2 linked regions of the Homo sapiens genome follow. The protein of the gene in region 1 interacts with the protein of each later gene in a pairwise test. Each region holds a gene or a part of one and is shown on either strand. Other genes may lie near its edges.

Region 1 (9,028 bases):
TAGTTCTTTTAATTGTGATGTTAGGGTGTCAATTTTAGATCTCTCCTGCTTTCTCTTGTGGGCATTTAGTGCTATAAATTTCCCTCTACACACTGTATTAAATGTGTCCCAGAGATTCTGGTATGTTGTGTCTTTGTTCTCATTGATTTCAAAGAACATCTTTATTTCTGCCTTCATTTCGTTATGTACCCAGTAGTCATTCAGGAGCAGGTTGTTCAGTTTCCATGTAGTTGAGCGGTTTTGACTGAGTTTCTTAATTCTGAGCTTTAGTTTGATTGCACTGTGGTCTGAGAGACAGTTTGTTATAATTTCTGTTCTTTTACTGAGTAAATTTGTTATAATTTACTGTTCTTTTATTTGCTGAGGAGTGCTTTACTTCCAACTATGTGGTCAATTTTGGAGTAAGTGTGATGTGGTGCTGACAAGAATGTATATTCTGTTGTTTTGGAGTGGAGAGTTCTGCAGGTGTCTATTAGGTCTGCTTGGTGCAGAGCTGAGTTCAATTCCTGGATATCCTTATTAACTTTCTGTCTCGTTGATCTGTCTAATGTTGACAGTGGGGTGTTAAAGTCTCCCATTATTATTGCGTGGGAGTCTAAGTCTCTTTGTAGGTCTTTAAGGACTTGCTTTATGAATCTGGGTCCTCCTGTATTGGGTGCATATATATTTAAGATAGTTAGCTCCTCTTGTTGAATTGATCCCTTTACCATTATGTAATGGCCTTTTGTCTCTTTTGATCTGTTGGTTTAAAGTCTGTTTTATCAGAGACTAGGACTGCAATCCCTGCCTTTTTTTTGTTTTCCATTTGCTTGGTAGATCTTCCTCCATCCCTTTATTTTGAGCCTATGTGTGTCTCTGCACGTGAGATGGGTTTCCTGAATACAGCAGATGGGTCTTGACTCTATCCAATTTGCCAGTCTGTGTCTTTTAATTGGAGCATTTAGCCCATTTACATTTAAGGTTAATATTATTATGTGTGAATTTGAGCCTGTCATTATGATGTTAGCTGGTTATTTTGCTCATTAGTTGATGCAGTTTCTCCCTAGTATAGATGGTCTTTACAATTTGGCATGTTTTTGCAGGGCTGGTACCGGTTGTTCCTTTCCGTGTTTTAGTGCTTCCTTCAGGAGCTCTTGTAAGGCAGGCCTGGTTGTGACAAAATCTCTCAGCATTTGTTTGTCTGTAAAGGATTTTATTTCTCCGTCACTTATGAAGCTGAGTTTGGCTGAATATGAAATTCTGGGTTGAAAATTCTTTTAAGAATATTGAATATTGGCCCCCACTCTCTTCTGGCTTGTAGAGTTTCTGCCGAGAGATCAGCTATTAGTCTGATGGGTTTCCCTTTGTGGGTAATGAGACCTTTCTCTCTGGCTGCCCTTAACATTTTTTTCTTCATTTCAACTTTGGTGAATCTGACAATTATGTGTCTTGGAATTGCTATTCTCGAGGAGTATCTTTGTGGTGTTCTCTGTATTTCCTGAATTTGAATGTTGGCCTGCCTCACTAGGTTGGGGAAGTTCTCCTGGATGATATCCTGAAGAGTGCTTTCCAACTTGGTTGCATTCTCCCCATCACTTTCAGGTACACCAATCAGATGTAGATTTGGTCTTCTCACATAGTCCCATATTTCTTGGAGGCTTTGTTCATTTCTTTTTACTCTTTTTTCTCTAAACTTCTCTTCTCACTTCATTTCATTCATTTGATCTTCAATCACTGATACCCTTTCTTCCATTTAATCAAATCAGCTACTGAAGCTTGTGCATGCATCACGTAGTTCTTGTGCCATGGTTTTCAGCTCCATCAGGTCATTTATGGACTTATCTATGCTGTTTATTCTCGTTAGCCATTTGTCTACTCTTTTTTCAAGGTTTTTAAGCTTCTTTGTGATGGGTTCAAACATCCTCCTTTAGCTGGGAGAAGTTTGTTATTACCGATTGTCTGAAGCCGCCTTCTCTCGACTCGTCAAAGTCATTCTCCATACAGCTTTGTTCCGCTGCTGGCAAGGAGCTCATGTTGCTGCCTAATCCTTCCTCTGGAAGCTTCATCTCAGAGGGGCACCCAGCCTTATGAAGTGCCAGTCGCCCCCCTACTGGGAGATGCCTCCCAGTTAGGCTACTCGGGGGTCAGGGACCCACTTGAGGAGGCAGTCTGTCTGTTCTCAGATCTCAAACTCAGTGCTGGGAGAACCACTACTCTCTTCAAAGCTGTCACACAGGGACATTTAAGTCTGCAGAAGTTTCTGCTGCCTTCTGTTCAGCTATGCCCTGCCCCTAGAGGTGGAGTCTACAGAGGCAGGGAGGCCTCCTTGAGCTGAGGTGGGCTCCACCCAGTTCGAGCTTCCTGGCCACTTTGTTTATGTACTCGAGCCTCGGCAATGGCAGATGCCCCTCCCTCAGCCTTGCTGTCGCCTTGCAGTTTGATCTCAGACTGCTGTGCTAGCAATGAGCAGGGCTCCTTGGGCATGGGACCCTCTGAGCCAGGCGCGGGATATAATCTCCTGGTGAGCCGTTTGCTAAGGCCATTGGAAAAGTGCAGTATTAGGGTGGGAGTATCCCGATTTTCCAGGTGCAGTCTCTCACGGCTTCCCTTTTGTAGTAAAGGGAATTCCCCGACCCCTTGCGCTTCCCAGGTGAGGCGATGCCCCGCCCTGCTCCATGGGCTGCACCTATTTGTCTGGCAAGCCCCAGTGAGATGAACCTGGTACCTCAGTTGGAAATGCAGAAATCGCCCATCTTCTGCATCGTTCATGCTGGGAGCTGCAGACTGGAGCTGTTCCTATTCGGCCATCTTGGCGCCACCTATTTCAGATTTTTCTAATCAGCTTAATATACTTCGAAGAGCTGAATGCTTTTGTCTTTTATGTTTATTAATTTTCTCAATAGCCTAGTTTAGAGAAATTATTAATCTTTTACCAATGTATCTATGGTCTTATTCTGAAGACCTGTAATCTTATAAGCTTGATTTGTTTATTACAAAATATATTCACTGTAAGTAAGAGAAAGAGTTATAAATTTTATCCAGAGATAACCACTATTAATGTGGCACTATATATTTTTCCAGGCTTATTTATAATACTCCCACCTTCCACCACTACCACCAAATAAAATAAGTAAAATCACTCTGTATAAACTGAGAGGAACTTACTCTGTGAAAAAGAAAGGAAGTGAATTACTGTCATAAGACAAAGTATTTGAAGCTACTGTTCCATAATATAAACCCTGAGAACACTGCTTTTTACAAGTAAATCTTGGTTTATATTAATAGTAATCACTTTCTGAAAACAAAAATAGTTTCACAGGTACTTTATGAAAGTCTACAACCAGCCTCATCTAAACATTTATTTTGAAAGAAAAGGCTTCACATTTAAGAAATCTGAGACAAATTAGTTCTCTTCTATTTGCTATATATTCAGCTTTGTTTTTCTGTATTAATAACTGAATTAAGTTTAAAGTTCTAAGTAAAAAGTACCTGAGTGTTTATGCCGTCCTGTTGAGCACAGCAGTCAATAGCTACTCCTTGGTTACACCACCTACATTACAATTCTGAGGTCCTAGCCATATTCTCATTTCTAGCTCCATCATCATGGATCCAGACCAGTGCCACACACTGCAGCCCCATGGCTTGATACGCAACACAGAAATTATCACTATCTGTTACTCAAGCTTCCTTTACCTCAAAAATAACAAACAATAATACCCCAGTAAAACAGTCTGCTTTCACACACAACCCTGGTCCAAACCATGTTCTCCAAGATCCTACTCTCTAAGCTGCTTTACCTGTGGCTGCATTTCCTCTGGAAGTGCCTAACCCAAGGGGCCTGCTGTAATTGCTAAATATAGGGTGACTATGGCAAGCTTCTTAAGAAAACTGCTTTATAAAACTCTCAATACAACAAAGATTCTGGACAACATGCAGCAAGATTAGCATATCCCTGTAATACATCATGGTTTTACTCTAGCACAGTTGTTACCAAGTTGATTAGAAACACTTGTGGAACGTTTAAAAACTTTTAAAAACAGATTGCTGGGCTCTGTACTCTTTCAAGTATACCTTCACTCAACCACATTCCCCTAAACACTAAATTGAGTAGATCTATAGTGAGACTGAGTAAAAAAAAATTAGTTACGTAGATCCTTGCTATTCAAAGTGTAGTCCAAACATCAGAAGCATTAGCATCATCTGGGAGCTTGTCAGAAATGCAGATTCTCAGGCCCCATCATACCTATTGAATACAAACCTGCAGCTCAACAAGGTCTCCCGGTGATTAGGACAAACATTCAAGATTGAAAGCACTGCCCTACATGATTCTCATGTGCAGCCAGGTTTGAAAAGCAGTGCTCTTCTTAACCCTCTAGTTCTCAAAATACAAAATCAAATATATGAATAAATTTAAAATGTACTTTAATTACTGCAAAGAGGCTATAGTGAAACTCAAAAGCAATTCATTTTTAGGGGGCCCCAATCACATTCCATAGCTACCACAATTTCACTTACCCTTGCATTACATATGGAAACTGGTGACTCTGTGCTTGGTCAGTTTGTGCTTGTGGAAGGGTACGCTGCCTCAATCCTTCTGAGGAAGAACCCACAGCTAAAGACAAGGTTTCTTGACCAGATGATGGAGTTGTTGATCCTGAATGATCTGAACTCTACAAATAAAAATGTAATTTTTAAAAGGAGATTTAGTTCTTTACAATCATAAAATTACAGGCACATTACTAAAAACGTATTCATGAAATCCCTCTGCAAAATAACATTTCAGAAATTTACTGTTTTACATCGTGTGTCCAGTATAAGTAGATATTTTAATTTTAGTACGTCAAAACTTATCAAAACTGCTTAATTAAACTAAAATATTCCATTTTTTCAACTAGAAATGGCCGAGGAGCAGAATAATAATATACAAAAACAGCATATTAAATTCTGAGGATTAAGTTAATGCATAAAAAGCTCTTTTCACATGATTAAATTAATGCATGCAAAGCTCCTTTCATGATGCCTAACACATACATTTATTGAAAGTGTTCAATAAATGGTACTAATTACTGAGTCATTTAAACAGTTACTATGTGCCAAGTACTGTACAACATGCTATTGTTAACATATTGATTTAAAGTAATGAGAAACAGGCTAGAAATCCTAGAAATCAAAAGATCTAAAATCTAGTGTTATCTCTGACATTAACAAGAGTTATAACCTTAAAGGTTCACTTAACCTCTCAGAGTTTCCACTTTCCTACAGAAAATGAGATTGGACTAAATTTTCAAGATTCCTTTCAGTTCTAGAATTCTATTAGTTTATAGAAATCACCAACAAATATTGCTTTTTTACAAAATGAACTACGAGAATCAAGATGTTAATCAGTATTTTTTTATTCTCATGCTCAAATCTTTTTATTCTCGTGCTCATGGATTCAGTAACCATAAACAATATAACTCCCTGAAGACCATCCCAATTTGTTTGAAAATAGTTTGTCAAGTGTTTCATGTACATTTAAAACACAATTACATTTTACATAAATTATAGTTCTTCCACTTTAAAAAGCTAGGTACAGTATTATTTTAACATCCTTCCTTTAACAATTTTGTTAAATTGTATTTTACCCGTACTGCCTTCCTATTGACAGGATGTCTTTTTGCATGACTCCCATGCTAAGTCCTGCAATGTGAAAGGTCCAAAACTGTCTTTTGCAAAACAGTCCACACCAGTCTTTTGCAAGACTAACAAAAACTTTTAAAATGTTACTTCACACACAATAGATATCAAATATCTTACTAAGGAGTCCGGATTCTTAGGAACATAAACTGGGAAAGGTTTCTTTTTCAGCAAGATTTCTCATTAAATGGGCCATCATAATACGGTGTTCATTAATACAATTATTAGAAGAAAAGCCTAGTCATTTGGCAGCACAACCTAATTTCTCTAGAACTAATGATTTCTGACCTTATTAGGTAATTATTTTATGATTAGATCTTTAAAATATTTTCAAGTCCCTTGAAATTTCTGAACCATGAAAAATTAAGGTGAATTCAACTTAACATTCCTTTGATACTTTTCAGGCTTTCATAACACTGAAAAAAACAAATATACACACTAATGACACAAAATCATGGCTGAGCAACCCACTGGACAAGTCAAAGTCAGAGGGTTCTTTCCCAACAAAAATTGAAGCAATGCAACTGTGTCCGACGACTACAAAAAAAAACTCTGTGCCAATGCCAATGTCTGTGCCTTTCCATGCCAAGGCAGGAAACATACAAAGACCCTTGGGTGTTTTGACAAGGCATATTTTATTTAGTTTAATGTAAGCTAAATTCCCATGGCTGGTACTAGGAAATAGTTACCATTAAGAGAATACAAATTAAATACAGCAACTGGAGAAGCTAGTTTCTTAAAGAAGCAGTTAACTAGTATCTATTGAGAGAGTTTTCAACTAGCTCCCACCCCTGTCACTTGTGCTCTCTTTCAAGCTTTGGCTGGAGTCTTGACAAGGAAAGCATACTTAGCAGTAGAAAAGTTCCCTGACTGCTCAAGAAGTTGAAAGCAAGCTTCCACTCATCCAATCCTCTCACCTGCAAAGGTGTCATAGAAAGCTTTTATGGGAAATCAAAAATAACATAAAAGGATTGGGGACAATGTTTTTGAAATTTGTAGAAAATGTCTAAATTGAGAAGGTCAACTATTACAAAACATTTCCAAAACAATTTTAGGCAGATGGAAAAATAAGGATGGAGGAATGAATACCCAAGTCTGAAAGAGATTAATACATTAAGTATTTCCTCCCCAAGCAGGTGGAATGTACACCCAAATCCAGTCATTTTTAAAAAACAAAATCCTTGACCAAGTCATCTACTTCAAGAAGATTTAGGGTACTTAAATTTTAAACAATTTAATCCACCTTGAATAAAATATACTATTTTAAATACCTGGCATATTTCTGAAACGTCATTGGCCTAAGAGTTTATATTATATAACCGTAACATAATTCCGTTTTCTGAGTATTCCAGTAATTAAACCTTTGAAGATTAAATCTATTACTGACCTGCCATACAGCAAATTATAACTCAAGGTGAATAGACTTCAAGGGATAACACTGCGTATTAGATCTTTCAAAATGGTAAACTTTACAAAATGCCTAACTTTAGTTCAAAACACAATCTCAAAATTCACAAGCTCCAATTGTTCTGTTTTTCATTTAGTTTTTAGAGGCAAAAAATAAGACGACGACGAAAAAAAAAGAAAAGTTCAATGTTTACTCCTCCCAAAACAACTCACAGAATTGCTGCTGGATGCCAATGCTTCATGACTTTCTCTATTGGTGCTGGATTTTGGAGAACTGGGAGGAGTCCGAGAAGTACATACTAGATGAACCATATGATACTCATCTTGCTAAAATTAAAGAAGATTACATTTAAAGGGTAGTACTACAAAATGTACAGTTCAAAAAGTCAGTAGCTAAACTGAAATACCTAAAACTTAGGTCCCTTTCGAGCCTAGCCATTTAATTACTGATAAATTGTTATCATTTGAAGGTAAATTTGTCATTTTATTTGTGATCCTTTTGAATTCAATATTTTCTCCATACTTGGAAAATGATCTAAATACTCTGCAATTGCTGGGTTAAAAAATTATTTTGCATACGAAGCAGTCTTAAAGCAAACAATGTTGTGAAAGTTGTAACAGCACAATCTATAATTTCAGCATGAAAACATCTAGCACCTTAAACTTTTTACAGTTTACATATTTCCATCACTTGAGGCTTAGCAACTATAAAATAAACTCAAATAACTTCATCATAATCACATTTGCCTTAATTTTAGCAAGGTGATTTTTTTTACTCTTTTTTTCAGTCAAAAACTATTTTTATCTATAACACCTATACGCAGATATAAAGCATACATTTAAACTATATTCTGTAAATATCCCATGTTTTTCCATAAACCTAGAAATATGACTGAAGAAAAATATTCCAAATAACGATTAGGGTTGGCATTTTAGCTTAGTGAGATCATAAGCATATTTATTTATACTTAGACATAAAGCCAGCAAATAAGATGGGGAAAGGAAAGAAGGAATAAAGGAGGACAGAGAACAATGAAGGATGAGTCAGCTAGTTTTTTAAAAAGAAAAGAACAGAATGACAAAGAAAAAGGAGCAGAAAGAAAGATAACCAAATGGGGAGAAAGGGAAACAAAGCTACTAGAAACTATGAATGTATCACTTGCCTACCATGAACCTATAATTGTGCTTAATTTGGAGACAAATCCAAGAAAGGGTACAACAGGCCCTTCCTTAAAGAGGCTCATGATATTGTTAAGAGGGTAGACTAGTGCACTACAGCACAATTAGAGAAACACAGAGAACAGTCTTTTTTTCATGAAACTGAGAAGCCCAACCTTAATTGCTTTAGGAGTTTGGAGGAAGGAGTTACTAAGGGTTAGAATGCTAAAGAAAGGCTTCAGAGACAGCATGACAGAAGGTACGCCTGGCAAAGGAGGTTGAAGACACTCCTAATTTTCAACGTCTCCCTTAGCTTCTTAATACAGAATATTAACAAGCATACAAGTATAAGATGTTGATCCTTAGAAACCTAGTTCCAAAAGGTCATTATTAATCACAATTAATTCACAGAATTTATTTATCTTGGGAATGTTTCTATAAAACATTTTGTGACTAAATAGGTAAAGCTAATGGCAGTATTTAACTGAAAAAAGTAAAGGGGTACATTGACTTTAATAAAAACAGTTGAAAGAACTATTCAAAACATAAATGTATTACTCAAAATGTTTTATATAGGGGCACAAGAGTTCTTTGACTGAAGCAGTTTTTATTTTAAGTTGTTTGGCCTGAAACCATTCCTGGCAGCAAAAATCTTTTTAAAAGTCTTCATGTGTAGATTTAAGCTATCCTTGGCATAAAATAATTAATATATCTATATTTCAAAGAGCAGATGGCAGAAAGGACTATACCGAAATATATTTTATTTCTGAGCACCAGCATAAAAACAAGAGAAAAAAAAAGAACAGCC
Region 2 (5,335 bases), on another chromosome or scaffold:
TCTACTAAAAATAGGAAAAATTAGCCGGGCGTGGTGGCAGGTGCCTATAATCCCAGCTACTCGGGAGGCTGAGGCAGGAGAATTGCTTGAACCCGGGAGGTGGAGGTTTCAGTGAGCCGAGATCAAGCCATTGCACTCCAGCCTGGGGGACAAGAGTGAGACTTCTCCTCAAAAAAAAAAAAAAAAAAAAAAAAAAAAATCTAGAACAGTGATCCCTCCAAAGAGCAGTCTTCTTTAATTACAGGGTAGAATATTTTCCTCAATTTTGCCAGACTAGATCAGAGTGGAAGCTTCTCCTCTCAGAAGTATTCCTAAATACAAAATCCTTGCATTAATATTATCAGACAAAAAGTTATTTTCCCTAAATTATACATTCTTTTTTCAATTTTGACTTCTCGGATTTAGTTCTCTATTATAGTAAATTAATGACAAAAGTATAATTTCTCTGAGTGTCCTCTCTCGTCTAATTTTTAAAAAGTCTGGGTAAAACACGTTTTTCTACAATCACTGTTATAACTAATGCAACTCTATTTTCTGAGTACTAGAGTACAACCAAAAAACGGTCTGTATTTATCATTCAAATTATACTTGTGATTTTCACCTACACACAATTTTATATTTGTAAATGTAGAATCATTACTTAAAACTCAGAGAAACAAAATTTGACATTGAGGGGAAAGTAATTTGTTCACTTATAGCTACTTTTAAAGTTTGGAAACATAAAATTATGTTAAAAGAAGTGTTCTATTCATAATTCTAAGTTTACATGTCAAATTTAACATGCCCAAATAATACTTTCCTATAATGGAATGACAACCCAAAAAATACACTCAAAATAATAAACACAAAATTCAAAAAGTAACACAAAATAATCCTACCCCAGCAGTTGTTCCCTAATCTACAAAATAAGGTCAGACCAAATGATTTCTTAACTTTCAATTCTGACATTTTTTTAAATAGATAATGGAATCAAACACTAGTCACCTTTAGCTTTATATTACCTCAGAAGTCACTTACTTTTTAACCTCTCAGTAAAGATACTGAGAGTTATTTAAAAGGTATCGGCTAAGATATTATCTCCTGATCCAACAATCCCACTTCTGGGCATTTATCCAGAAGACTTGAAATCCGTATGTCAAAGAGAAGTCTGCACTCCACGTTCACTGCAGACAAGTCACAATTATCAAGTTATTCAATCAACCTAAATGTCCATCAATGGATGCATGGATAAAGAAAATGTGGCATATATACACAATAAAATACTATTTGGCCTTTAAAAAGGTAGAAATTGTGTCATTTGCAACAATATGGATGAACCTGGAGGACATTATGGTAAGTGAAATAAGCCAAGCACAGAAAGACAAATACCACATGATCTCACTTATTTGTGTAATCTAAAACAATTAAACTCACAGAAGTAGAGAGAAGAATGATGGTTGCTAGAGGCCGGGGATGTGGGAATGGGGAGATGATAATCAAAAGATACAAAGCCTCAATTAGATAGAAGGAGCATGTTTGACTTTTTTTAGATCTATTACACAACATGGTGAATACAGCTAATAATTAAGCACTGTACATTTCAATACTGCTGAGAGTAAATTTCAAATGTTTTCATCACAAAATATGTCAAATATTTGAGGTGATGGATAGATTAGCTTTATTTAATCCCACATTATATTCAAAAATCATAATGCCACTTTGTTTCTCATAAGTATATACAACTATAATTTGATATATAATAAAAAAAATCTAAAAAGGTAGTCTCCTAACAATCATATGAAGACTATCCTAAAATGTCCTTTAGTAACTGTCATGGACTGAAAAGTATCCCACGAAGAGACAATGTCTACTCAGATCATGTGAATACAAACTTACTTGGAACATGGGTCTTTGTAAACATAATTAAGGGTCTCCAGACACAATCACCCTAGATCAGGGTGGGCCCTACATTCAAAGACACTGTCCTTAAAAGGTAATGAAGAGAAGACAGAGGGAAAGGCCGTGTGAACACAGAGGCAGAGACTGGAGTGAAGATTGCTGTCTGCAATACTTGGACAAGATTTGTCCAGAAGCCAAAGAACTCCAAGAATTGCACACAGCCACAAGATATTAGGAAACAGACATAGAATGTCTGTTTATGGATTCTTCCTTAGAGCCTCCAGAAGGAACCAACTCTGCTGACACTTTGATTTTAGACTTCTGGCCTCCAGACTGTGAGGAAAATTGTTGTAAGCACCCAAGTTTGTCGTCATTTGTTATGGAAGCCCTGGGAAGCTAATACAATATGTATTTCAGAAAGGAAATCCCCCTTTTAAAGGATTATAATCAATACAATTTGTCTTTGGCCATCATACATTTCATATTAGGAATTAGTGAAAGAGCTTCATCATTTCTAGATTGTAAACAATAACCAACAATTTGATGTCTAGACAGGCATATATGAGTCTCTACTTTATCATTTACTATCTATGCATTTGTATTTTGACTTAGAATTAAAATTATATTACTGAAATGTTAAGCAACTTTTCAATCAAGAATATCACCTGACCATTTGTAAATATTTGCTAATACATTGTTATTAGGTTGGTAAAAAAGTAATTGTGGTTTTGCCATTACTTTCAATGGCAAAAACCACAATTACTTTTGCACTAACCTAATATTTCTCTCTGAAGAGAATAAATTCATTCCAGTAATATGAAGCATACCCAGTTTTAATAAACTTGTACATACAAAACATTCCCAAGCTTTTTAAGGGGCCAACATTATGAGAGTGATATGAGATATCTGAAAACAATTTTATTTTTCCATTTTTCAGGCTTTTGAAGCAGGTCTTAAGCTTTCTCAGTTCTTTGCCACTTAATTTCTTACATATGTTTAAAATATATATAAAAAAAACTAATGTAATTTGAAGACCACCACTGCACCTAAAAGAAATTCCATGTTTTCCACCTATTCAGTTGTTCTTTGTAGAAATGGTCTAATTATTAAGTCCATTTTCACAGTTCGAAATATCACTGATATTACCACATAAACCTTTGAATGTCCTGACTATTTGGCCACTGAAAAGTCTTGTTCAGAAAGATGAAAAAAGTTATGAAATTAACAACTGCATAGCAGCTCAGTTCACAAATGAGTCTGGATGTGGGAGGCAGAGGTATGTTAAGCCTATAAATGACATAAGGTAAAATGAAGTAACGAAATTCCAGCAGTTTCTGAGGAACTATAACAGTGAACAAGCATATGAAAAACATTAAATTCCAAAAAATTGACTTTGATTTCAATGAGTCAGCTATACTCCAACCAGCAAATATATAGGCTGGAACTAACAAATATTTTACAGTTTCATATCTTTGAAAAACTCTTTTCCACACATAGAAAGTATAATGTCTATTGTCTGCTAGCAAGTATTTATGAGCATAAGTGAATTTCCAAACTAAAAACACAGAGACTAAGGTAACCACAAAAAACAGAATTCTACGTTTCCAAACTAAGGAAAGAAAAGTCTTAATTTTGCTAGGAGACAGGAGATGAGGAAAGGAAAAAAAGAGAGTAAATGAAAAAAAGTAGAATAGTTGAGGAAAATGAAGACAGGCTTCATGACTACTCCGATCGCCAATAACAATTCCACCATTAACTACTACAAAAGCACAAAACAGAAATCCCAGAAGGATGTAGGGCCAAGTCAGAAGCAAAAGCATACTCAAGTTTTTAAAGGACATGGAATAAGCCAAAAGAAACTGAAGAATTTTTCTGAATTCTGCAAATGGTCCTTTAATAGGTGGAAGTCTGTCTTCCTTCTTTTGTAGCTCAGTTTTCCAAGCCTCCGTTAACTTTTGTGCAATGACATTTCCTGCACAGAAGACAGCCCAGATGATATTTGTTTGCCGAAACATGAAGCCACAAAATCCAAGGAAGGCTGAAGTTTTATGATTTCCATAAAGACACATCAAATACGCAAAAAGAGTAAAAAACATAGATCCTGCTTCTGTATAATAAAGGAAGTTAAAAAAATAAAGTGTTGGAAATACTGCTAGTGTTAATGTTGACAAGACTCTCTGGATACTTGAGGCAGCCTTGGAGGAAGAAGAAACACAGATAAAATTATTTTCATGACAAAAAATGCTATTTCTGCTTACCTAATGAAGAAATTTATTTAAAAACTACTCAACTACTCAAACCTTCTTTAAATAAAATTAATCAATATTAATCTTATCTCTGGCTTTGCAAAAACACAATATACATTTATAAGAACACTTCCTGGTACTTTTTATGTATACCTATCAGTTTGGAGACCATGTGTATGCCAAATCTTCTATAGCTTAACACAATTGGAATCAGGCAATGATTAGTTAAGGAGTTATTGAGTGCAAGATACTAACTAAGTTCTATGTGGACTATGGAGATAAATAGGACACGGTGCTGGCTCCATTTCCCTGAGCTTATGTTTTAGTGCCTTCAGTAAGGATTCACTTAGCCATAATGAACCACTTTCCTTTAAGGAAATCCTTCATAACTCTACACAAGGGAGAATATAAACATGCATATGGTATACTACCATACCCAGACTTACTTTTTCAAGATGAAATTTTCATGATGAAATAACAGGTATTTTTCTGAAAAGTGAGCCTGTCTAAAGTTATATATCTTCTTTTGGCCTTTCTGACATGCTGTTTCAGAATTTGAAAGTGTTCTTATGTTCTTGAATTGTATACTCCACTTAATCTAAATCACCAAATCAGACCATGCCATTTCCTTGATTAAAATTAAGGTCTTTACATTACATGCTAAAGTTCAAAGTCCTCTCTGTGACACATAAGGGCATTCATGACCTACTTCTCTAGCCTTACATCCCTCTACTTTTTAATCCTGTAATTCCAAGACCAATTCCCTGCAACTCGTTGTTCAATGCCTTTCTTCCTTTTCTTATGTTGTTTGTCTCCCCAGGATTAATTCCCCACCCTACACAGCCCTATCCGTTCATCAAGACTCAGCTCTGGTACCATCTTCTCTGTGAGGACTTACCAAATGCCACATACTCCCCTCCCTCCCAGAAAAGCAGTAAGTGTTCCCCTGCTCCTTCTCTGTATCCTCATAGCATCTTATGTTTACCACTCTATCATAACTGACACTACTGAAATCATCTCTTAAGGTTAAAAATAATTATTAGAGTTAATATTTACTGAACCCTTACTATATCTCTGGCACTGTTCGAAGCATCTTCCATTTATTAAGTTTCTTTGTTCCTTTATAACAGTTCTATAAGGCAGATTCTATTGTTATTCTTATTTAATACATGAAGACATGGAGCCACTAAGGGTTAACCTGTCCATGGTAA

The links. The genes of interacting proteins can lie anywhere in the genome.
Region 2: the proteins of HERPUD2 (region 1) and ALG10 interact in binary tests that used the Homo sapiens proteins (3 or more experiments, as listed by UniProt).

Annotation. Positions count from the first base shown.
Region 1 is NC_000007.14:35,662,940-35,671,967, forward strand, and holds part of HERPUD2 (homocysteine-responsive endoplasmic reticulum-resident ubiquitin-like domain member 2 protein), read right to left. Parts: intron 7,390-9,028; coding exon 7,276-7,389; intron 4,650-7,275; coding exon 4,495-4,649; intron 1-4,494. UniProt on the Homo sapiens protein: Could be involved in the unfolded protein response (UPR) pathway.
Region 2 is NC_000012.12:34,024,601-34,029,935, reverse strand, and holds the end of ALG10 (dol-P-Glc:Glc(2)Man(9)GlcNAc(2)-PP-Dol alpha-1,2-glucosyltransferase), read right to left. Parts: intron 4,074-5,335; coding exon 3,021-4,073; 3' UTR 1,634-3,020; downstream 1-1,633. UniProt on the Homo sapiens protein: Dol-P-Glc:Glc(2)Man(9)GlcNAc(2)-PP-Dol alpha-1,2-glucosyltransferase that operates in the biosynthetic pathway of dolichol-linked oligosaccharides, the glycan precursors employed in protein asparagine (N)-glycosylation.